3 separate regions of the Homo sapiens genome follow, and all the other regions are linked to region 2. Evidence: fine-mapped expression QTL. A gene starts in region 2. Each other region holds a variant in brackets. All regions are shown on one strand. Distances are from middle to middle.

Region 1 (8,725 bases), 150 kb after region 2:
AATTTTTTAAGATTCTGGAGGTTTACCTACATGCTTATATGCCATCCTTCTCCCTAATCTTCTCCCTAATCTTAAAAATAGGTTTTATGTAATGAGAAACATTGTAGAATAGAAAGCACATATTCTTGGTTTGCATAGAGACAAAAGAAATCTGACTTCCTCTAATGACAAGTCAATTTATTATTTTATGTATATATGTATGTGTGTTCGTATTTTAATAAATAAATGTGTTGTTTCATATATTTAAAATATATATTTATATTTTTTTACATGTAAATGAATGAAATGGCATATATATGCTATCATACTGTGTTTTGAATATATTTCTGTTATTTACAAATAACATTTATTTACAATATTCATTTCTATGGTATTTATTTGTCATTCCTCTCCTTCAAGTCTTCTTAGTGGTGTTTCAGTACTCAAAAATGAGGGCATCCAGCCTGGCCAATATGGTGAAACCCCTTCTCTACTAAAAATACAAAAATTAGCCAGGTGTGGTGGCACACACCTGTAGTCACAGCTACTCAGGAGGCTGAGGCAGGAGAATCGATTGAACCTGGGAGGCAGAGGTTGCAATGAGCCAAGATCAGGCCACAGCACTCCAGCCTGGGCAGCAGAGTGAGACTCTGTCAAACAAAACACCAAAATGAGCACAGACATCTTACGAAGTATCTCTTTGAAGGATACTGTCAAATTTTTATCCCACAGAAAGTCAGTTTAGTTAATACTATGTAAGTTTATCTTAAGTTAGTCTATGGAAGTGTGAAGTATCTGAGGTGTCAAACAATAACCAAAATGGATAGCTATCATAGAACACAATTCCGGCATATCGCTGTAATTTGTGGAGCAGCAATTTTTTTGTTCACTGAAATCTTTTAAAATACTTTCTAAAAACTATTGCACTTTACTCATAGTCTGTGTCATTGTTTCTCAGCTTTTACAGAGAGAAACCAGACATCAGAGAGGAAATGGTTTATCCATGCTATAATCACTGTATTTGCAATCATCTGTTTTTAATCTTTTCCACATCAGGATCACATAAGGAAAGGGAAAGTTTCCATCTCTTCCTGATTCTAGCGTGAAGTGAACCATCTAAAAATAGCCTCACTGTTACCTCATGTATTTCCCTTTTCATTTTACCCCAAAATCCACACATCACTGGTCATACCCTTGAGTCATGTTTGTAAACACTAGAAAGCTCTTTCTTTTCTTTGCCCTCACGCAATTGCTCCACAATGTGAACTTTTGGTTTATTTTGATGTTGAATAATCACGAGTGAATAATTGTGAACAGTGCTGGACAAGAAATAACAAGCTGATTAATTTAGCTGAATAGAGGGAAAAAAAGAAGAGATTGGTGATAAAAGCTTTCTCAAGTTTCAAACAAGAAATTATTTACATACATATGGGATTTTCAGTGAAATGTAATTGTATTTATCATAATAGTTTATGAAGCAAATGCTTTCATATACATTAAATCCTTTGTTCTCCTAGATTTTTATTCATAAGTGGTGTTGAGAGAGTTGATCAACATAAAATTCATGACATTCCAGAAGCAAAAAGAGCAGTGAAAGTTCAATGAAAAGTGTATTTTTCTCTGAATGTAAGCCTGTATGATAAAGTACTTGTTTTCTTCTAATGTAAACTACTGAGGTCTTTATACATTTTATCATTTAATCCTCTCAGCAATCCTATGAGAAAGGCGATGGTATTAGCTTTATTTTACAGAGGTAGAAAAATGAATTGCTGAGAAATAAGAAACAGATGAAATAGAGATGAGATGGGATTGGGAGCCTGCTATGTCAGGGATAGTGAATAATCTAGTCTGTGTTTGTTCGTTCCTCATTATCTCTGCGTTGCCTGTAGGGGAGTATCACTGTACACTGCAGCCACCAAAAATAATTTGTTTCTTGTTGAGCTGTGGTGTCTAATTAGTTTGTCTCAGGTCATCCAGCTAGCAAGTTTTAGGGTGTCTGTCTTAGAGCTGGGCCTTTCACGCTGCACAACCCAGGCCCACAATCGTGCAGCACCTTCCTGCCTTTATCATACTTTTCTATAATATCTATTTATCTTTTCTGTTGATTTATAAACTCCAAATCTTCAAGGACAGCCTATCTCTTATGCTTAGAACATAACTCACTGATAATTGTTGGCTGAATTAACAAATACTCTGAGGAAATTGTCCAGGTGTACTGCAAAGTCTCACCTTGTATTTTTTCCTGGCATTTATCACAGTTTTAAGCACAAAGGGTTATTTGATTGCTATCTCTCGCCCAACAGGCTATAAATCCCATAACAACAAAAACCATGAATGTTTTACTCACTGTTATGTCCCCACTTCTAACATGGAACCTAGTCGACCACTATTGATTGCTGTGGAATGGATCAACGAGATGACAAGAGTAGTTAAAAAGAACTTAAGATTCTAGTGACAGTATCCCCAAAACTTCCCCTTTCCAGGAATTTTCCTCTCTAATGTTCTTATCTCTCTTCCCTTTCTTTATCCTCTTTTGTTTTCCTTACTTTTTTCCTTCCATCTCTTTTCTTCTCTTTACTGGCATTTATTTATTAAACATTTGCATAGCACTTAATATGTAGTAAGCACTGTTTTAAGCACTGTAAAGTATTAATTTATTTAATTCTAATAGCAACCCTATGAGATAGGTATTATTTATATCATCCACATTTTAAATCTGAGATGGAAACATTGACTTAAGAAACATGTCCAAGGCCATGGAGCTTGCATTTGGACTCAGGCATCTGGTCCCAGAATCTGTGCTTCTCCCACTATGATATTCTGCTTCTTATTTATTCTGCTCTCCCTGAAGATGCACATAATGGAAATGAGGTCTCTTCACTGCATCTCTCCATATTGATTTATGTTCTCCAGTTTAAATTTAATTTTGGGGGTGCTTACCCCAGTGAGTTAGCCTGCTTTGGTGCAGAGACAAACCAACCTCGAATCTCCGTAGCTGACTGCGAACACGTATTTCTTGGCCACTTACATGCCAGCAGTCATAAATCACCCGTGGAGGCTCTGTTCTATTTCTCTTCTCATTCTGGCGGGAATGTATAACCAGCTTACCAGGAAGGGAGCTAATACATGGAAACCATCATACAATTTGCCACGACCATTAACTAAGCCCTTGGTACATCTGTACAGTCCTCTCTTGGCCGTTACATGTAATAGCAATGCTCTGAGGCCAAAGGTTCAACTTCTGTTCACAAAAAGAAGACAAAAAGCTGATTCAGAGTAACTCAAATATTTTTGTATACATAAAATGAATGAAGTTTTGGCTGGTACTTTTTAACACTTTGGTGGAGATGATACAGGTAAAAATCCAGTAACAGGATTCTTCTCTGCATCATCAGATTCCTTTTTTACTCCTAAGGGTTAAAAAAACTTTCACATGGTTATAAATTCTCTGAACCCATAATTTTTTTTCTCTAGCAGCTTCTTCAACATAATTTTGCTCAGTTCAGTTTATCAATAATTTTTCAAATGCCTGCTGTGGAGCTAGCCTTGTGCCAAGAATTAACATAACAATAGTGAGTTTGTTTTCAATTTCTTTGAAATTAATGAACTTCCTGAGAACAGGGTCGTGATTCATCCTAGCAAGGAGTACATTGCTGGCACACAGTAGACACCTAGTGAACACTGAATTATGGTCAGACCAACTGAATCAATGAAAACTGAAAATTTCCAAATTCATCTTTCCATCTTTCCCATAGGAACTTCTACTTGCAGAAAAGTGGGCTAAAATGAACAAGCTCCCCTTTCCAAAGATTGATCCTTATGTGTTTGATCGGGAAGGGCTGAAGGAGTGCTATGTCTTTAAACCCAAGAATCCTGATATGGAGAAAGATTGCCCAACCATCATCCACTTTGTTCTGGCCAACATCAACTTCAGAAAGTACAGGGCTCCAGGTAAGTAGGGAGTAAGCTGTATTCCATAAAATAGAAATTAAGTAGGGGACGAAACTGACATTAAACTGTTTCACTCTGTCACTGCTGTACCAGCTATTACACTATTGAATGCTTCCCTTACCTTGATAAATAGATACTATTCTGAGACCTCAAGTACTTCTCCTCTTTCTTACCCCAAGATCCCCTGACTTGCTCACAGTTCAGAAACTGCAAAGTCAACAACCAGTTTAGCAAAAATCTCTGGGACTTTACTTCAATACTTTGAATTATGTTTGTTCTGATTGATTTTTAATCAAATATTTTGACTATCACCCTTGTAAGAAAGCCCTTATTTCAGAAAAATCATGCAAATTTCTGGGAATTTTACGTGACTACAAGATTAACGTAATCTAGCAGTACACAATGGCTAGCAGTTTCAGTTTGCCATGTTGTATTTCACAGAAAACAAGAATCAAGTTTGAGGCATAGTCTTTTTTGTTTTGTTTTATTTTTTTAACCATATCCAGAGGGGTCTCTCGACTCTTGTGTATCCTGGAAAATGTTGATTAACCAAAGGAGATCTAAAGATTTACATGCAGGGTGCTTAAGGCTCCAAAAACCATATTTTAGGACCAGAAAATGTGTTTTCCATTTTATAAATGGAAAGACACAAAAAATAGGGAGGATGAGTAATGGGAATATGCTGAGAAAAATGGTGTTTTTCTAGATTTCTCAGGAAGACAAAGAAAGAATTGATAGGAGTGAAGATTATTGTGAAGCATATAGTTCAGCATAGGAGAAGGTGGAAATCTGACATTTTTAGTTATCAGACACTAGAGCACATGAAACCCAGTGAATTTTCTATCACTGTGAATTCTCAAGGAGAGGCTCACTGAGCAGTTGGCATGTGTAGGGGATTTCCATGGCATAAAGACAGCCACATAATGTTTTAGTTTGGGTTCTCCCAGAAACTAATTCTGAGAAAAGGACTCAAGTGCAAATAGTTTATTTAGATGAGCTGGGGAACACTCTAGTTTATTAGTAAGGAAATGGGGAAGTGGTAAAGGGAAGGAAGGCAGACAACAAAGTTGCATTAGCAAGCCGGCTACCACAATGGGAACTTGATC[C/T]GCTGGGAAAGACTACAAAATGGAATAGACCTGTGTCCCACAATCATGCTTCCCACACGCACACCAAAAGGCAGGGGAATGGAGTATTTAGATTCTAACTCCCTAGAGTCTTTGGTTGACCACTGCCTGGGGAACAGTGTTATTTAACAGAATTTCCAGCCTGCTGTGAGTGGGTCAAGCAGGCTTCTACAGTTGCAGGGCAGGATAGAAAGCCCTCCGGCACACAGATGTCAGATATTGGCAGTTGGATGTCATCTGGCCAGAACACACAGACACGATAAAAGTCAGAGATGCTACAGAGTACCTGGCTCTGTGGGGACTCCCACTGCTGTCTTTATGTCTGTATGTTTTATTCCTTGGGTTTTAGAGATATTTTGTAGTTTTCAAAATAACACCCTTTGTGACTCTTCTGGTATTTAGGTGTTCCAAGGGAAACTGAGGAAGAGAAAGAAATCGCTGACTTTGATATTTTTGATGACCCAGAATCACCATTTTCAACCTTCAATTTTCAATATCCAAATCAAGCATTCAAAAGACTACATGATCTTATGCACTTCAATACTCTGAACAACATTGATGTAAGTATCTCCTATGGCCATTGACTATGTCAAATGACTTCCATACCGTATAAATACACCAATACCTCTTTTCAATTAAAAATAAAAAAATAAGTGTTATGAATGACACCACCCAAAATATGCCACTTTACTTTTCATGAAATATTTTGCTAATCTTCAGAAGAACCCTACAAAACTGACAAATAAGGAAACTCATTTTATGCTATTATTTTATTGAATGATTGGTTAATACTCAGTTTCTTTCCCGAAGTATCTATGTATTTATTATATGATATAACAAATTATAAGTAAGGAAGAAAAGTGATGAAAAGGAAATATGAGTAAAGGAAATATGAGTATGAAAGTGAATGGAACCAGAAGTGTAGTTAATCTGCAAAAATATAACATGAATTTTAATAAATACATTTATGATTTTACATATTTTCTTTTTGTGAATTTGAGAGCAGCATCACAAAACGTAACAGCATTTCCTTTTTTTTTTTTTTTTTTTTTTGAGATGGAGTCTCGCTCTGTCGCCCAGGCTGGAGTGCAGTGGCGCAATGTCGGCTCACTGCAAGCTCCGCCTCCCAGGTTCACGCCATTCTCCTGCCTCAGCCTCCCGAGTAGCTGGGACTACAGGCGCCTGCCACCACGCCCGGCTAATTTTTTTGTGTTTGTAGTGAAGACGGGGTTTCACCGTGTTAGTCTCCATCTCCTGACCTCGTTACCCGCCCGCCTCGGCCTTCCTAAGTGCTGGGATTACAGGCGTGAGCCACCGCACCCGGCCAGCCTTTCCAATTTTTAGCCTTTGAGATGTCAAGTATGCTTTGCTTTAGAAACAAATCATTGTCTTCAGTATCAATCCTTCCTATCATTAGTGTATCTTCTGCTAAGATTCTGTGTCTAGGTGAAATTCTTTCATTTTTAACTTACCATATAGGAACACTATTCTGTAACTGAAATCATTGACTTGTGGTTCCAAATCATAGTGTCTGACAAATGATTATCAGTTGTAAAAGCTTAAGTTCAGTGGCCTAATTGGATTTTGTACATTAGAAAAACAGAAAAAAAGAAATTAAATGGAGAAGGAAAGGCATCATGTCTGATTTACCAGTCTTTTTGGTGACTGTGTAAATGGCGCAAAGGAATTCAGAATATGTGAATGAGTGTTCTGTTTATATGGGCTCTAATTAGATTTTGTGAGCTAATAGAACTCCACACATCTAGTTTGCTTGCTTGTTTCGTTTGGCCTGAGACTAGTAATATCAACTGTATGCAATCATCACAGTTGCACCATAATATATTTGTTAATTAATATCTTTAATTTTTGTAAATGTGTAAAATTTTCCCCAATAAGCCTTGATTCTTACAACTCTAAAATTCTTTTTTTCAGCCTTCATTTACAAATAGATGATAATTCATCTAAAAATGCTTATCAAAATATATAGCATATGTCATTTTCTCCATAGATTTGTTTCCTTTTTAGAAAAAATATTTCAAGCAGTGGACATCTGAAATCCACGTGATACATTATCTCTATGGTGATGGCAAAAATTGAAAGGTTAAGAGAAAAAATGATTAATCTCTGATTTGTAGGGAGTGAACATAAATTCTCAAAATAGAGTTAGTTGCATTTTATAAAACCTCATGCTACTAAAACAGAGGTAAGAATTAATATCACAGTCACCCTAGTTTTCCAGTATGAGCCAATAAACTCAAAACTACACATTCCTTGGGATGAATTGTATTAAATTTGATAAGTCTTTCTCAAATGGAAAAAACAGATTGTAGGAATATACAAATACCATGTTGGACTTGGGAGTAGATATACATATGTGTATCTTAACCAAATACATTTGTCTTGCTGTTCTAGTTTATATAAAGTCTGCTAAACAATTTGCAATAAGGAATGATACAGTTTTATTTATATATTTTACAAACATTCTTCAAAGTAGTTTGTTTGACACATAGATGTAAAAGTTAGTGCCTGAACAAAAATAGACTGAATCCCAGAACAACTGTCCCGACCTATACACCTCATCAAATGTTGATTCTTCAGAAACCATTAATTTAGCAGTTTTAAAAATATGTTTTCACTTTTTATTGTTATAAAATATACAAAATATAAAATTTATCATTTTAACCATTTTTAAGTGTACAGTTTAGTGGCATTAAGTACATTGCATTATCGTGCAACCAACCCCACCATCTATCTCCAGAACATTTTACATCCTCCCAAACTAAAACTCTGTAACCATTAACTAGTAAGTCCCCATTTCCCCTGCATTTTTAGTAACAATACCATCAGGTTTTTATAAGAAGATTGATAAATTCATTAAAAAATAATATGAAAGTGAAAAGGACCAAAGTAGGCTAACTCATCTTGAAGAAAGAAAGCGAAGTTAGAAGACTTACTTTACCAAATAGAAAGACAGCAAGATAACATTAAGAAAACATGACATTGTCCAAGGACAGACAGTAGCACTAAATAAAATCGTCCTTGAATAAATTGTGACTATCTGTAATAAAAAAAGTGATCAGATGATTATTCACAAAGGAAAAAATTAAATGTACCTCTTTCACATTATCAACAAAGCCAATATCAGATAGACTGTAGATCTGAGTATAAAAGTAAACAAAGCTTCTAGAATACAACACAGGGGAGTATCTTTATGACTTTGACCCTGGGAAATATTCTTTAAACTTGACGCTAAAAGCATTAGCCATAAAGGGCAATCTTTCCTGTATCTCCAAGTCCTTTAGTTCTGAGAATTAAGCAGTTTTTAATTGCTTCTGCTACAGTTTCTGGCACAGCATGTACAGACAAGGTCATGGGCGTTATATCATCTTTAAATCTCTTACATGTGACTTTGAATAAGCTGCTTAAACTTTTTGAGCCTCCACTTCCTCGTCTCTGAAACAGGTGTGGTAGGATCTATAATAATTGTAGTAGTGAATGTTTAATTGGGTGATGCATGATTACAGAAGCTGCTCAATAAATGAGAACCTTACCTATACATGTCCTTATCTTGTACCCCTGAAGGTCCATGGGGATTACACCCAAAGACCTTTGCAAATGCCTCAGGTTAACAACATAGACAAGTTTGTACAGGTAATGCCAGCTTAGGCAGT
Region 2 (8,725 bases):
GAAAAGGAGATGCAGGAGTAAAGATTGTATGGTAGTATATGTAAGTAATAGTAAAGCAAGAGTACAAGTTAATATTTTGATAGTAAAATGGACAGGAAAATGCAGATATAAAAATGTGAAGATAGAAACCAGAAGATAAATAAAGGAGTTGGGTGGGTTGAAGGAAGAAAAGGGGCAAGACTCTGACAATTGCTGATGTGGAAGAGAATAGTAGAAGGTTCCTAGCCTGGGTGCTTAGGATAATGGAGGCTTTAATTATCTATTAGTAACTCCACTACCACTGCTCCCTAACAGTCAGAGATTTGGTTGACTTGGGACAAAGCTGAAAATATGGCCAAACAAAACTTGCTATGAGAGAGTGTGATACACTAGAAAAATTGTGGGCTTTGGAGTTGGACCGACTTGATTAAAATCCCAGCCTCACTACAAATTTTATATGCTTACTGAATATCGAGATTCTAAATAAAGAAAATAATGTCTCATTTCATGAATATAATGGTTAGTGATACAACAAATGTAGTACTAACACAAGTACCTGGCCCATTATAGGCTCTATATAAAGAGTAACAGTCAATCTTAGTAGTACTTTATTTGTTATAGTTTTCCTAATGTATTTATTTAAAAAGGAGGGAAAAGTTTAATTAAGCAGTAATAATTTGTTTAATGAGTTCAATTCAAAGTAAGAGAAAAGTATTGCTTCCGTTGTTTAGGTCAAAAGATCTTTGCAAATGTAGGTGTAACTACTAGTAGATATTTAGCTATAAAATATAGGTCTTATTGTTCACAGATACACTCTCCTGAAAAATGTAGTTTCATCATAACATCTGATTTTTAAATTCATGGTAAATACATTTTAATTAGGGTCCATTTCATCCTTACTTCTTGTTAGTTTTATATTGTCAGTAATTTATCAGTGTGTGTGTGGATTGGAGGGTATTAAAAAAATAAAATGTCTATTCTTTAGTAATGATGGAGATGGCAGTGGCAGGTAGAGTGCTATTTAGGTGTCAGGTTTAAGATATCTTTGACCCTGATATCATGGAAAACAAATTCAACAAACATCCATTGAGCTCCCAATGTGTTATAAACTTCAGGTGAAAAGAGGGTTTATTAACATGAGAAAGACTTGCCTTGTGCCCTGATGGAATATAAAATATTTTTTTTCTTGTATAGCCAAGTATAATACATGATCAGTGCTCTAATGAGCATTCTCATACAAGTAGAATAATGAATTCTGCTGGACAGGGAAAAGGGTAGGGAAATTTTCCAGACAAGATAGTACTTGAGCTAAGCCTTGCAGGTTGAGTAGGATTATTCTAGTGGAATTTAGGGAAACGATGTGCAAGGAGAATAGTCTCTTAGTTTGAATGAAAGGTAGAGGTCAATTAGTGGGATGCCAGAAAACTTGACAAGGTGAGAAAATCATTTTCTGTGACTTGCTATTTTACTAACCTGATTGATTTTGTTAATACCTAAAAAGAGAAATGATTCATGTTAATTATATTCACAGATACAAATAAGTAGCAAAAATATCAACTTATTATTTTACTATAAATACAGTTGGACCAGAAGACTCAAGCATAGCCTGTGGAATAGAAGGATACATTATTATAAGTAAATTAGTTGATTGGTAGCCATTTTCTGATTTTACCTGCAATCTGGATTAGATTCCCTATTCAACTCTCTCTTAGTACCCTATGCTGGCTAATCATCTTCATTTTCTATCCAGATTTAATTCTCATATACTACCTCATTACCCTGCTCAAGTTTATCAGAAACAAAGCAGTTTCATATAGTTAGAGCAGAAGATAGGTGAATTGGAAATAGTAAAAAAGATAACAGAAAACAACTCCACATAAAGAAAGAAAAATCATTCAAAAGAAGACATTTATGCAGCCAACAGACACATGAAAAAATGCTCATCATCACTGGTCATCAGAGAAATGCAAATCAAAACCACAATGAGATACCATCTCACACCAGTTAGAATGGCGATCATTAAAAAGTCAGGAAACAACAGATGCTGGAGAGGATGTGGAGAAATAGGAACATTTTTACAGTGTTGGTGGGAATGTAAACTAGTTCAACCATTGTGGAAGACAGTGTGGCAATTCCTCAAGGACCTAGAACTAGAAATACCATTTGATTCAGCCATCCCATTACTGGGTATATACCCAAAGGATTATAAATTGTGCTACTATAAAGGCACATGCACATGTATGTTTATTGTGGCACTATTCACAATAGCAAAAACTTGGAACCAACCCAAATGTCCATCAATGATAGACTGGATTAAGAAAATGTGACACATATACCCCACGGAATACTATGCAGCCATAAAAATGATGAGTTCATGTCCTTTGCAGGGACATGGATGAACCTGGAAACCATCATTCTGAACAAACTATCACAAGCACAGAAAACCAAACACCCCATGTTCTCACTCATAGGTGGTAATTGAACAATGAGAACACTTGGACACAGGGCGGGGAACATCACACACGGGGGCCTGTCGTGGGATGAGGGGCAGGGGGAGGGATAGCATCAGGAGAAATACCTAATGTAAATGACGAGTTAATGGGTGCAGTAAACCAGCATGGCACATGTATACCTATGTAACAAACCTGCACGTTGTGCACATGTACCCTAGAACTTAAAGTAAAATTAAAAAAAAGAAAGAAAGAAAAATCAATCATACAAACATCAGGGTTCCCCCTCCCAACCCCCTGGGGTTTTTGAGCCATGGCTTTTGACAAGTAGGTGTTCTTTGTTAGTTAATTTGGCCAGTTTTGGGGTTGTTCCTTTTGATTACTTATCTAGTTCTTAGCTTATTATTCTCTTTCTAAAATTTTAAAGATGTGGAAAATTACTAGCAAACTGCATGAAACTTATTAGCTGGAAATAGTGCAAATGGTAGAATTGGATTCAAAGAAGCTGCTATGATATTTCTCAGTTTCAGATGGGTCCCAGATGACTAATCTTTGTTGATGGACAAACCAAGTGGAGAGGGGTCTTCAGACATAATTGATCCTATAGACTGAAGCACGCTATGGAAGTCAGGGCCTATCTTACCTAAGGTGGAAGCAGAGGTTTTTGAAGTCAGTAGGTCAATGCTGAAAATATTTTTGGAGGAAATTGGGCAAAGTGAAGACGGCAAATCTGAACTTGTACTATCCACCTAGGGGTCTATGTGAACAGTGAGATCACAAGTAGTGAGCCAAAATAGATGAGATAAGGAGGCCATAGAACCACAAAATGGGTAAATGGGATTTGGTCTGCACTGATTCCAGAGAGGAAAAGACATACCTGCAGCAGCCTTTATTCATTATAAAGGTGGAGATAAATCAGCTTCATTTAGTAAGGCGGGAAAGAGACAAACTTCTCCCCGTATATATTAACCCTAACCATGACATATAATGACATTTTCTTTAAAAGCGTTTAAATAAATTTTTTATCTTTAATGCATGACACACTATTGGATATCATCTGGAAATATTGAGAGCTATAACTTTTTGTTATCAAAAAAGCACTAGAGCACTTTTTTTGTGCTCTATAAGCAAGCACTGTGAAGCTGCTTTTCCAGGGAGTCTTTTTTATCAGAGTCTTAGAACGAACATGCCCTGCAGTATAGATTCTTTCTTTCACCAGTTGTGTCTGGGGGAAAGAGATGAAAACTACCAGTGTGCTCTCTGCTCCTCTAATTAACATACACCTCCTTTCTAGAAATTCAGGGATTTCTTTGGAAAGAGAAATTTTTTTTTTTTTTTTTTTTTTTTTTTTTTTTTTTTTTTTTTTTTTTTTTTGAGACGGAGTCTCGCTCTGTGGCCCAGGCGGGAGTGCAATGGCGCAATCTTGGCTCACTGCAAGCTCTGCCTCCCGGGTTCACGCCATTCTCCTGCCTCAGCCTCCCAAGTAGCTGGGACTACAGGCGCCCGCCACCACACCCGGCTAATTTTTTGTATTTTTAGTAGAGACGGGGGTTTCACCGTGTTAGCCAGGATAGTCTCGATCTCCTGACCTCGTGATCCGCCCGCCTTGGCCTCCCAAAGTGCTGGGATTACAGGCGTGAGCCACCGTGCCCAGCCCGAAAAATGTTTATTATAAATCTATCCTTCCTAAAAAAGACATTACTGGCTTTTTTTTTTTTCAAAGAGAGATTTATAATATGCCAGGTTGAATTTAGGGGAAAAAAATAAAAACAAATAAGAGTTGAATGTTGGGCTACAGAAAGCAGATATTCCAGAAGATTTAGTGAAATTATATTCTTTGAAAATATTGTAAGAGAGTTAGGAGAGTGAGTTCAGTATTTAATTAAAGGCAAAAACAAGATCCTGTGTTTGAAAAACAAGATATACTAAATGAACATGTCAATCTTTAAAGACATGAATTGATTCTCATGGAATTTGGGTACATTTAAACAATGCACCTTCTTCATTACAGTGCTATAAGGTATTTGGATTTACACTGCAAATTTGGAATTCAACCTGATTTCATTTTCTTCCCTAAATCTCAACATATATATTACATTATTTGGTATGCCTTTAATCTTAAATTTACAAAGAAATTATTATCAACACAGGTGTTCTGAGTCTGGAGTGGAAATATTTAAACAGATTTGATTTTTAAAGTGGTCTGATACTCATTTTTTAAAAATGTACATTTTTATATTTGGGGTTTGTTATAAACTTTGCCTTTTTAAATAATGCAAAAATGCTCTAGGTTATTCACTGTCTTTTCAATTTTGTTCTCCTTTGGAAAAAAGGAGGAAGTAGTTACTACTTAAGGACAAGTAGCAATTTCAGACGCGCGCACGCACACACACACACACACACACACACATCACACACACAGAAATCCACAACAGCACTCATGGAATTTAGGACTGATTAATTTACATATTATTTAAGCATATTTTCTGACTTCAAACTCCTGGTTCTAATAACTAAGCATTTACATTTACAATATTAGCTTCTATGAGAAGAGAGCGTTCTCCCTCTTCCCCTTTAATTCCACCTTAAAACATCTGCAAAAGCGCAAGGAGACCAGCCCACATTTTAGCCCCTCCTACTCAGGATAAGACTTTCTCTAAGTCCGGAGCTGAAAAAGGATCCTGACTGAAAGCTAGAGGCATTGAGGAGCCTGAAGATTCTCAGGTAACTCTGGGAACTGTAAGCAATATATTTATTCTTCCTCTGCTCCACTTCTCTCTCCCACCCTCCTTAGCTTTTACTTGGTAGTTTACTTGGAAGGAAGAAAGGACGGAGGGGAAACCTCGCTGCTTTAAAAAGTCAGCATGTCCTCTGCCTTTTGAAGTGAAACACAGATTAGGGACCTCAATTTTCTTCAAACCCACGCAGATTTGCCTTCCTGGATCTAAATGCACTGTGGAGTCAAAGATTAAGGTGTTTCTTTGGGTTGGAATCCCAGAAAGTTAGCATTCAAAACGGCGGTGAGGTGGCGCTTATTAGCGTTCCACGTGATGACACCCAATGGTTACTGATCCCCAAACTTGAGCAGCAGCATGCTGTGCTGTTTGACAGCCCTAGCGATCTTTAGCGAGAGACTTTGTTGACTCACTTAACTTTTAATTTCTAAAAATTGGTCATTTTTGTTACTTATGGGACGCTTTCCTGGCTAGTCAATATTTTGCAGAATTATGCGAAAGAAAGAGGATTATTGAAAAATTAACTGTAAACGGACTGGTGTTCTGATGATCCACCCTTCCCCTAAGTTACTTGGCTTGCCAAGAGAAAAAAAAAATCTCAAAACTAGATACTAGAAAAGATTTGATCAAATTACATAGTTAAATTTTGAGTGTGGATATTTCAGTAATTTTGTTTCCAAAAAAAACAGAAAAAAAAGGTATTTGATTTTAAAGTATCAGTGGATGAATGTATCTGTCTCCTACAATTTATAATCATTTTAGTCTTAAAAATAAATTCACCTCCAAAACCAGAACAAGAAATACTCCTCATATGGGTTGATGATGTCAGCATTTATTCAGCTAAGGCAGATGGAGAGTATTAGAGGCGTACTGTCTGAATGGGTGTCAATTCTAAAGTTATATTTGCCAATATAATTTGAGTTCAAAGAAGATTTGTATTTTTGTTTCTCTTTGTTGTTTAAATTTAGAATTGTGGCTCAAGGGATATTTGTAGAGGACTGTAGTGAAACAAGCTCTGTTAAGAATTTTAAAGTTACATTCTACAGGTTCCTACACCTTGCCAATCAAGTTAGAGGTTGGGATAAGAAACAGGTATTTACTTCTTTCATTAGCTCCGGAAGAGTTAAATTTTAAATTAAGCAATAATTGTGAAATGCATAGAGAAGTGTTTAATGTGCATTTGCTCAAAGGAGTTTTACAAACTTCCCTTAGGGGAAGCATATTTTTTGAGATAAGACATTGCATCTTTTTAACATATTTTTAAAAAGTAAGTTATTCTGGCTGGGCGCAGTGGCTCATGCCCGTAATACCAGCACTTTGGGAGGCCGAGGCGGGTGGATCACTTGAGGGCAGGAGTTCGAGACCAGCCTGGCCAACGTGGTGAAACCCCATCTCTACTAAAAATAGAAAAACTAGCCGGACGTGGTGGCAGGTGCCTGTAATCCCAGCTACTTGGGAGGCTGAGGCATGAGAATCGCTTGAACCCAGGAGGTGGAGGTTGCAGTGAGCCAAGATCGCGCCATTGCACTCCTGCCTGAGCGAAAACAGCGAAGCTCTGTCTCAAAAAAAAAAAAAAAAAAAAAAAAGTAAGTTATTCTGAAGTGTTTTGCATTTTTGCATTTACATTTAATTAGGAAAAGAAAAATTATTAAATAGATTTTTAGCAACTGAAAATGTTCATTCCATAGAGGTTATTTGGCTTATGTTTTTAACCCATTATCTTTTCTAGTGCTGGTACTTAGAAAGCAGTCATAAAATCGAATCATCTACATATTAAAATTATGTTCCAGGAATAAAAAAGAGGAAGACAGAATTAGTTGTGGTTCCCATTCATCTTGTTTGCTTTTATTTACCATCAGTTTTTTCCTCCTTCTTGCTCCAGATTGTATAGCTTGCTTGCTTGCTTGCTTGCTTTCTTTCTTTCTTTCTTTCTTTCTTTCTTTCTTTCTTTCTTTCTTTCTTTCTTTCTTTCTTTTTCTTTCTTTCTTACTTTTTCTTTCTTTTCTTTTTCTTTCTTTTGTTTTTGTTCCATCAAAGACACTTTTATAATCTTGTGACAGGTATGGACCCCTCCCTAGAATAATGCACATTATGCCATTCCAACACACACAAATTTAAAAACACCTTTAAGAAGTTCACAAATCCCCAAAGACAATTCATATTACATGAAAATGCAGTATTTCTTAAAACTTTGGAGTTTTCTGATAATATAAAATGATTAATTATAAAATCATTTTACTTATAAGTAAGGAACTAACAGTGGATATTGTAGCACCCACATAGTCATTTATTCATTGGTATTCTAGAACTCCAAGCAACTTGGTATAATGGAAAAAACTGCTTGCCTGAAACCAGGTGACCTAGGTTCTAGACTCAACCCCAATAATAATTAACTGTACAATATTACGCTTGACATTTTTCTGTAACATCTGTTGCTTTTATTGCCGAATGCAGTAAGTGAAACATAATAAGAAAATCAGATGCAAGTTATTTTTTATTGGATTGTGGGGTGTCTATATTTACTACTTTTATTCCAAAATTCCTAATGACATTTCCCAGAATGATTAGTTTTTATAACACTATTGTTTATTATAAAGATAAATCACACTCACTGCTTAAAATTTCATTAAATATAGAAAATTGCAAGGAAGAAAAAGAAAATATTACCTATTATTTCCCCCAAGGTACTTTTAAAATGTAATTCAATCATTAATTCAATCAACAAATATCTATTGAGTACCCAGTATGCATCAGCAAAGAGACAGACAAGAAGTTCATGTATATACATGTTTATATGTCTAGATATGTTTCTATACATACATGTAGTTTTACAAAATTGTGATCACACTGTTCATGCTGTTTTGTAACATGCTTCTCCCTCATTCATGAGATGCATTGTTAAAACATGTTTTTTTTAATAATCATGCATTACTTTGTATTCACATATTTAACAAATATTATTAAGTCCCTACTGTGTGTAATGCAAGTAATGGCAATCTATCCATGAGCAAAAGAGTATGGTTCTTACTATATGAAATTTTTCATCTGTATATAGGCTGTACTGGCCAATTATATCTTGTTGGATATTTAGATAGATTAGTTTTCCACTATTATAAATAATTGTTGGATATTTAGATTTATAATAGTTTTCCACTATTATAAATAATATTTCATCTAGGACCTTTTTTATATATGTTAGTATACATTTTTGTTTATTTCCTTATGGTAGATTCTTAAAGTTTATTTTCTAGGTTCTAAAAAAAATTTTATTACTTACAAGTTGTGAGATGATAATCCAATTACTTTATCTCCTTAAAATGTTGTCTTCTCAATTGTAAAATAGAAATAATAATAGTTGGGTATTTTGAGGATTCTTTAAAATATTTAGCGAAATCTCATGGAATGCTAGTGATTATTTTTGACATTTTGCTCTTGAGGAATATGGTATTCATTTATGAGCAATATAAAAGAGTAGAGTTTTCTATGTCAATACTGGGTGCCATCATCAAACAGAGCAAATGACAACAAATCCAACAACTTGGATAATTGATATACGAAAAT
Region 3 (8,725 bases), 820 kb before region 2:
CTTCAGAGCCACTCCAGAGGATGCAGGAAGATATTCCTGCAAAGCAATTAATATTGCAGGCACTTCTCAGAAGTACTTTAACATTGATGTGCTAGGTAAGAAATACATCCTTTTAAAAAACTACAATTCAGAAGCATTTCTTACCTAAAATAGAGCTGACTATATGAAAAAGTAAAGAGAAAAAGATAAATTGACAGAAAAACTATAGTTTCATTCTATTATTTTTGTCCTTATTATTTGTTAACCAGAACCATATGATATAGAAATTTTAAAGGGTTTCATTATTTATAATACAGAGATGCCTTTGAATCATATATACAGTAGTATCAAATACTCAAAAGTGGTACTGCTATCTTGTGTAAAATAAGAAATTATTACTCTTGTCAATTTCTCCAGTTAAGTAGGCACGACATTCTTTGGGAAGTGGCTATAACAGGGTGATACAGAATATATTACATTCATGCTGTGCATATCCTGAAGCTGCTAGGCTGTACTTGAACTGGAAAAGGTAGTAAATCCACTTTCCCCTGCATTCTAATTAACTCTTGTAACTAAGTCAGTCCTGATTCTAATTAAGTAGGTAGCAGCTGTAATAAATTAGGATGTAAGACATTTTAATGGTAATCATAAATTTAAAATTTTATAATTCTAGTTTGTGAAATTATATTTGCCATTTAAAATTCACTTTGTGATAAAATGACATTCTCCCTTTTCAATATTTTGCTCCTTACAATGGGCACATAATTTGTAAGTCTTGAGTAGAAGTGAGTGGAGGAATGATACTGCATAAAAATTATATTCATAAACTGCTATAACATACAAATAATTCCTCCCATTAGGCTTCTCAAAGCCTGAAATTTTTCTTCCACAAAATCACCATTATTATATTTAAGTATGAGTTATAAAAACAAATTACGAAATCATTGTTATCATGAGTCTTGCTGACATTATTTCTCCTGGTACTTGTCCGCTCCCTTGACTGAATTCCATCTGTGTGCTGATGACTCCCAATTTTTTATCTCCAGTTCAGACTTCTTCCCTGAGCCTAGGGATATATAGCTAATTTTCTCCATAGTATTGTGACTTGAATACCTTAGTTTTATATCAAACAAAAAGGTCCCAGTGAAAGCCAGTTCTGGTTGCCTTCCTTGATCCCCAGTCTAGGGACTGGTACCTCCATCCACTCACTTGGTTATTCCAGAACCTCCAGGTTCTCACTACTACCTTCTCCCCAACATTTCAAATCTACATATTTCCTGTTATGTCTACTTCCTAATTCTTTGGTGATCTACTTCTTTTCATCCTTCTGTGAAAGTCTATCATCATTCATGAGCTGAATCAATGTAATAGCCTAAGGGCTCACCTGAATCCACTTTTTGCTACTGTAATCCATTCTTCACTTAGGAGTGTGTGGTCTTAAAACACAAATATGATTACATCCCACTCCTCCCCTACTGAAATCCTTTAGTGGCTGGTCATTTTTCTGAGGATGAAGACCAAGCACTTTAACATGGTGTGAAAGGGGACGACTAGACAGGGAAGTATCCAGAAGCTCTTTAATAAGCTTGATAATCCTGAGAATAAAAACTAGCACATTATTTTTCATGTTATATTGCATACCAAATTTACCATCTTAGTTGTTTAAAAGACAAAGGTAATATATTTCAAGTAGCACCACACTATATGTAGAATTTGAATGTTATAAGAGTGATGTTAATTGTCATTCATTATCCAAAATGTATAGCAGTAGCAAATTACATTTGCATCACTGATCACTTACATTCTAAACTACTTTTGCATATGAGTTTAATACACCCAAAAATGAACCCTATACTGTCATAATTCTTGAAGGTAATTGTCTTGCTAGCAAATATTTTATAAATATGTTTCTACATTTAAATTTAACATTTGGGTACACAGAAATGATATGAAAAAGTATTGTTGTGTGGTATTTTATTTTTGACATTAAGATCTTGTTGAAATACTATAGAAATCATTGACTGCTTTCTAACCCCATGCCTGCTCTTTTTGCTGAGTAACAGAGTTTCATAATACACTGTCTTTGTTCAAGTTCCACCCACCATAATAGGTACCAACTTCCCAAATGAAGTCTCAGTTGTCCTCAACCGTGACGTCGCCCTTGAATGCCAGGTCAAAGGCACTCCCTTTCCTGATATTCATTGGTTCAAAGATGGCAAGTGAGTATCTTTTCTGTATTTGTTGCAAGGTTTCAATGATAGGAAAAAGATGTGAAAAATGCATGTGGATTTTCTCCCTCTTAATTATTTTATTACATAGAATATTATTAAATGAGCATACAGGAAAAACAATATTGCTCAAAAGCTAGTCTGAAAGTCTTGTAATTTTTTCATTCTTTTGAATTCAAAGCTCCCTATGAATGTTGGGAATTCATTTTAGAAATATAGAGGAACTCAAATTTAATATACACTAAATATCCTCTGTCTAAAGACAGTGAAAAATGTAAGATCTAAACATGAGATGATTTTCTGTTTACATTGAACTGTCTTATTAAAAAGGAAAATGTGTTTATGACAGCAAAATGAATACTAAGCTAGTTCTGTGTATGGGCAAAAAGGAACTACAGATATTTCTCCAACTCCAGATCTCAAGGACTGCTGAGGTGTGCCTACATCGAAATGGCTGCAGTGGTCTGTATTGGTTGTGAGAATTTATTTCTCAAATGGTGGTTACAGTTTGTGTATTATAGTTTCTGGGAACAGATATCTAAGGCCTAAGTAGAAAATAGTCAAGATTTGTGGTATATAAAATAAAAGATTGTATTCAAGCTTTTTATAAATCACTAATAAATACAAACAGCAAAATAGAAAATATATGGAGGATATGAACAGGCAGTTAAAATATACTAAGGCAATAAACATATTAAAAGATACCATCAATAATTTGATGAATAATAAAATTTTGTTATTTACAGCTCATATAGGCAAAAAAGCAAAGGTTTGAAATTATCAAATGTTGACTAGAGTATGGGAAAGCAAGATACAGTGCTCTGATGGGGAGGATGTAAATTAGTACCTTAAAAGGCAACTTGTTGATATCTGTTAAAATTTGATGCACATACACTGTGATGCAGTATCCAGGAGATGGAAGTAGTCATGCATATCCACAGAGAGGCTTGTACATTGATATTTACTGCAACACTGTGATGGCAAAGATGGGAAAGCTGGCTAAAACCCAACATTGGGAGAATAGGTAGATACTTTACGGCATAATCATATTATGGAACACTGCTCACCAATTAAAAAGAATAAGATCAAGTTATGTGTACCAAAAATATCTCCATACCTGTTATAGAGTGAAAGAAAAGCAGAACAATAACCTGACACCATTGATATATTAAAACTTTAGATATCTTTGGGAGTATATTTATAAACATTTTTGTTTATAAATGTTTATAAATAATTTTTTAATTGTTTAAATTGTTTATAAATGTTTATAAACAATTTTTTAATTGTTTATAAATGTTTATAAACAATTTTTTAATTGTTTATAAATGTTTATAAACAATTTTTTAATTGTTTATAAATGTTTATAAACAATTTTTTAATTGTTTATAAACGTTTATAAACAAATTTTTAATTGTTTATAAATGTTTATAAACAAATTTTTAATTGTTTAAATTGTTTATAAATGTTTATAAACAATTTTTTAATTGTTTATAAATGTTTATAAACAATTTTTTAATTGTTTATAAATGTTTATAAACAAGTTTTTAATTGTTTATAAATGTTTATAAACAAGTTTTTAATTGTTTAAATTGTTTATAAATGTTTATAAACAAGTTTTTAATTGTTTAAATTGTTTATAAATGTTTATAAACAAGTTTTTAATTGTTTAAATTGTTTATAAATGTTTATAAACAATTTTTTAATTGTTTAAATTGTTTATAAATGTAAAATAAAAACAAAAATGTGTTTAATTTTGTTAAAAACAAAAATGTTCATAAATGTAAAAAACATGGAAGAATACAAATCAGACTGATAAAGAGAAGTCTGGAAAGCAGACTCACATTAGGGGCCACAGACCAAGGATACTTTTTCTCATCATAATGCTTACTTTTTTGTTTAAAATTTTATGTTACTTGCACAATTGACAATCAATAAAAGTTTCAAAGTTACTTAAATTCGAGCAGCATATTATCAATTATTTCTTTAAAAACTTAAAATGTGGCCAGGCACC[G/A]TGGCTCACGCCTGTAATCCCAGCACTTTGGGAGGCCAAGGCAAGCGGATCACCTGAGGTCAAGAGTTCAAGACCAGCTTGGCCAACATGGTGAAACTCCGTCTCTACTAAAAATATAAAAATTAGCCATGCGTGGTGGCAGGTGCCTGTAATTCCAGCTACTTGGGAGGCCGAGGCAGGAGAATCGCTTGAACCCAGGAGGCAGAGGTTGCAGTGAGCTGAAATAGCACCATTGCACTCCAGCCTGGGCAACAAGAGTGAGACTTCATTTCAAAAAAAAAAAAAAAAACCTTAAAACACACTAAATGAAGCTACTTTATTCTCTTAACTTTTGAGAGCTATATACAAAGTGTCATACTAAGAAATAGTAAAATATGCTACCATAGGAAGTGAAATGTTTTCTGTTTAATTTCATAGTCTTACTAGTGTATTATGAATATGGCAGTGCATCTAATTATTCATTATGTGGCTAAGTCATTGCAACTTTTAAAAAACTAGCTATGGATATTCCTGAAAAAATATTTATGGACTTTAAAGGTATGAGTCTTAGGATATCATAGACTTTAACAACCAAATTTTAAAATAAAACTGCTGCCAATTACATAAACTGAGCGTTTTATAGTAGTCAGTAAATGACTCTGTATAGTAGAAAAAGACTTCCTTGACAATCATATACGAGCTTCTTTTGACATAAATATCTTTCAATATTTATGATTATGTAAGCATTTGTATTTATTACAATACTTATTTTTAGAGAAGTTGGTATGATTATTGCCTTTAGTAAAAATAACCATTCATGATATTGTGAATACTCTTCTAGATATTATAATGATATTATTTAAAAATAATATTATTTGGTCCAAAATCTATACTGTAATATTTAAAACTCTTAATTTTTCTTTTCCAGATAATGGTAGAATTTTAGCTATGCAAACCAAAAAATTTAAAAAAAGCTGAAAAAAGAATAAGAATGGATGAATGAATAAAACAAATAATGACACTACTGGATTTCTATTAATATTATTATATAATTTAAGTTTGAAATGGAGGAACTTTTCATCTCAAAGAGATATTTATGATTACCTAACTTCTGTTAGCAAAGTGGTTTAAAACTTTTATTCTTGGAGTGCTAATCATATCATTTTATTTTTTAAATTAACTTTTACTTGTATTTTTAGCCTGTACTAATGATTTTTGTTGTGATAAATAAGAAATGTGAAAAACTGAAAATAGACCCATGGAATAAAGTTTTATTTTTTCTAGGCCTTTATTTTTGGGCGATCCTAATGTTGAACTTCTAGACAGAGGACAAGTCTTACATTTAAAGAATGCACGGAGAAATGACAAGGGGCGCTACCAATGTACTGTGTCTAATGCAGCTGGCAAACAAGCCAAGGATATAAAACTGACTATCTATAGTAAGTGCGATTGTCTTATGCTTTTTATTGTCTGCTCTCATTATAAGTTGACAAGCAGGGTTTACTGGTAACTACACTCTTATTTCATACTGAATAATTTGGAATACTACATACTTCAAGAGAAGAAGGAGCTTATCTTCATGTGTTTTAAAAGGCTAGAATATTGGATCAAATTTTAATGCCTTTTTTCATTAAATATGGTTGTCTTCAAAAGATCTAGTGATTTTTATATAATCTCACTTAGAGAGAGCAAGAATTTCCTAATTGGTTAGTATATACACAAACCAAATGTCTGTATCTTTGAAAGGAACAAAACAAACTTTAAAAATTATAGAGATTTATGAAATAGAATGAAGTTGATGATATGCAGACAATTCAATTATTCTATTTGAATTCCATCGTGGCCGTTATCCTGACCATGTGATTATCTTTTAAATGCCTTATGTGTTTGTGCTACTGTTTTCTCCCAGCTATGTCCCCACCAAATATATGTAGCTCTTATTTTCCGTAACATTATCAGCCTCTTCTGAGGAGCGTGATTGCCAAATTCATTTTAATTTTTACCAGTGGAGCCATAGGTAGGCACATGAATATTATGTTTCCAGCACAAAGATTTATACAATAGAAAGGAATGGAACTCAATAGACCTGTAGTGCTCACTGCACTATCTTCTGTCTTTCCATGGTGTATGATGCTCAAGGAAAATTTAGACACCTCTTAGAATGTCACCTTCTCATAGGATCTTCCCATTAAAAGCAGTCACCTACTTACTCTCTTGTTTTCACAGCACACATCACTATCTGATATTTGATTGCTTAATTATAGGTTTATTTACTTATGATCTATTTCTTTCCCAGGAATTTAAACTTGATAAGAGTAGGCTTTTGTTTTGCATGTTCCCTACTTTAATGTTTGATACATAGCAAGTCTCAAGAAATATTTGCTAAATGAATGAATGGTCTAGTGTTACACTGTCTAATATGGTAGTCACTAGCCACGTGAGGCTATTGAGCACTTGAAATGTAGCTAGTCCAAACTAAGATGCACTGTTATATAAACTACACACCAGATATCAAAAGCTTAATATGAAAAATGTAATATATCTAATAATAACTTTACATTGATTATATCCAAAATGTTATTTTGGATATATTGGGCAAAGTAAAATGTATTATTAGAATTAATTTCCTCTGTTTCTTTCCATATTTTTTAATGTGGCTACCAGAAAACTTAAAATTACATATGTGAGTTTGCATTTGATTTCTATTGAACAACACTGGTTGAGTAATTAATAAGAGTTTGTGTTGAGGCCCAACCACTGCCACTGACTAGCTTTGTAACTGTGGATAAATTTCCTAAACCCTCTGGGCTTCAGTTTTCTCAGCCTTAAAATGGGGATAATAATAGCACCTATGCAGTAGTGTTATTGTGAAGATCAAATGCTAGATACTTTACGTGGATTATTGAGCTTATAGTAAGAGCCCAATAAATGTTATTCATTTATCATTATCTAATTAGTGATTGTATCATCTTAAAACTTAATGTACATATAGAATCTAGCTTGATTTCTATGTAATTTAATTGCTTTCCAAATCTCCCTTTTTAAATGTTACTGTCTTTATGTAAAGTTCAAATAGCTTTCTTGAATCAAAGAAATTATATTTAATACAGGCTTTTAAATCATTTATATCTATAAATAAAAGCCTTTGGAAGAAATTAGTCATGAAAAGACATGTTCTCTAAAAAAGAATAACATTGCTGAAAGATTAACTATACAAGCATCCAAGTTAAACAGAAGTGCTATTGGTACCATTGGCTTCCCACCAGAGCCAGACTTTTAAACAATAGGTGCAATATTTTTCCCAAGCTGTTGAGTAGTCTTCTCTGCACTATTGTATTTTTGCCAGGATCTGTGATGAATACATTTTGGTGATTCAATAAGACTCTTATTTCCATGGGACTTGGGTTCTTTCATTTTAGATCCTCTTGTTCACTCTGTATGATGCCCCCAGGCACCCAGAAAAGAGGGCTCTATAATGATTAAACCTTCTGAGATTGTCTGAGATAAAAGGCATTGTCATGTAGCAAAGTTTTGAATATTATAATTCAGGAAATAGTGTCATTTCCTCTTTAGCAATGCTCGCCTGCATCTCTTAGGCTTAAATTTATTTCACTTGTGAAAATGCTTTTGTTCTTAAAATGAAAAAAAAAAGTAAAACAGGTATCATGCTTTGGCTAACTGTGAAGAATACATATGTAGATTTCAGATTGAGAGTGTGTTTCATACTACACTTGATTCATTCCTTTTCCTTACTTACTGCTATGAGAATGAAGCAGGTGGGTTGATACACTTAAAAGGTATAAATGAACATTGTGCCTGAATAAGGAAAGAAACTGAGACAAAATACAAGAGAAAAATAAAAGAGATGGAGGATAAAAAAGAAAAAGAAGAATGTCAAACAGGGAAAAAAGTAAATGAAGTTTTAATATCCTATCAGGAGATTGTGCAGATTTACTAGTAGTTCTGAGGCAAAGATTTGTAAACTGTGGTCCACAGATGAGTTTTGGAGGTTTGAGAGCTTCCCTAAGTCAGCAGTCCCCAACCATTTTGGCACCAGGGTCGGTTTTGTGGAACGAAACTGTTCCACTGAACATCATCAGGCATTAGTTGGATTCTCACGAGAAGCCAGCAAAATAGAGTTCGCGCTCCTATGAGAATCTGATGCCCTCGTTGAGATGACAGGAGACAGAGCTCAGGTGGTAATGCTTGCTCGTCCGTCACCTCCTGCTGTAGGGCCCAGTTCCTAACAGGCCATGGATCCGAACCCTTCCATGGCCCAGGGGTTGGGAACTCCTGCCCTAAATTGCATAAAAGTCTTGAGGGGTGTGCGTGTCTGTGTGTGTGTCTGTGTCTGTGTGTATATATGTGTGTGTGTGGGGGTACATGGGTGTATCTATACATGCATATATATGTACAGTTTAATGAGCAGTGTATTCATAATTTTTATTTGTATTCCCTTCCCCCAAATGGAAGTATAGTTCTCTGGCAAATATGTATGAATTAAAATGGAAGAGGAAGTGAAATATTT

Direction of the effects. Positions count from the first base shown, and alleles are read on the strand shown. Sizes are in standard deviations (SD) of each study's normalised expression. Not every link is listed here.
As copies of A replace G in region 3, the expression in putamen of the gene that starts at base 5,067 in region 2 goes up (moderate effect, 0.62 SD a copy in GTEx).

Evidence for each region.
Region 1: its variant is fine-mapped to the expression of PLA2G4A in whole blood (TOPMed, PIP above 0.99).
Region 3: its variant is fine-mapped to the expression of PLA2G4A in putamen (GTEx, PIP 0.94).

What each region holds. Positions count from the first base shown.
Region 1 is chr1:186,973,859-186,982,583 of GRCh38, forward strand. PLA2G4A (phospholipase A2 group IVA) reads left to right here. Exons shown (of 18, transcript NM_024420.3): 16 at 3,735-3,930; 17 at 5,457-5,614. Among named protein-coding and RNA genes, the nearest start is that of LINC01036, 110 kb to the right of the region's middle. The variant C/T (reference allele first, on the strand shown) is at 5,037.
Region 2 is chr1:186,823,883-186,832,607 of GRCh38, forward strand. PLA2G4A (phospholipase A2 group IVA) reads left to right here and starts at 5,067. Exons shown (of 18, transcript NM_024420.3): 1 at 5,067-5,153.
Region 3 is chr1:186,001,647-186,010,371 of GRCh38, forward strand. HMCN1 (hemicentin 1) reads left to right here. Exons shown (of 107, transcript NM_031935.3): 28 at 1-95; 29 at 2,072-2,198; 30 at 5,482-5,636. Among named protein-coding and RNA genes, the nearest start is that of HMCN1, 270 kb to the left of the region's middle. The variant G/A (reference allele first, on the strand shown) is at 4,219.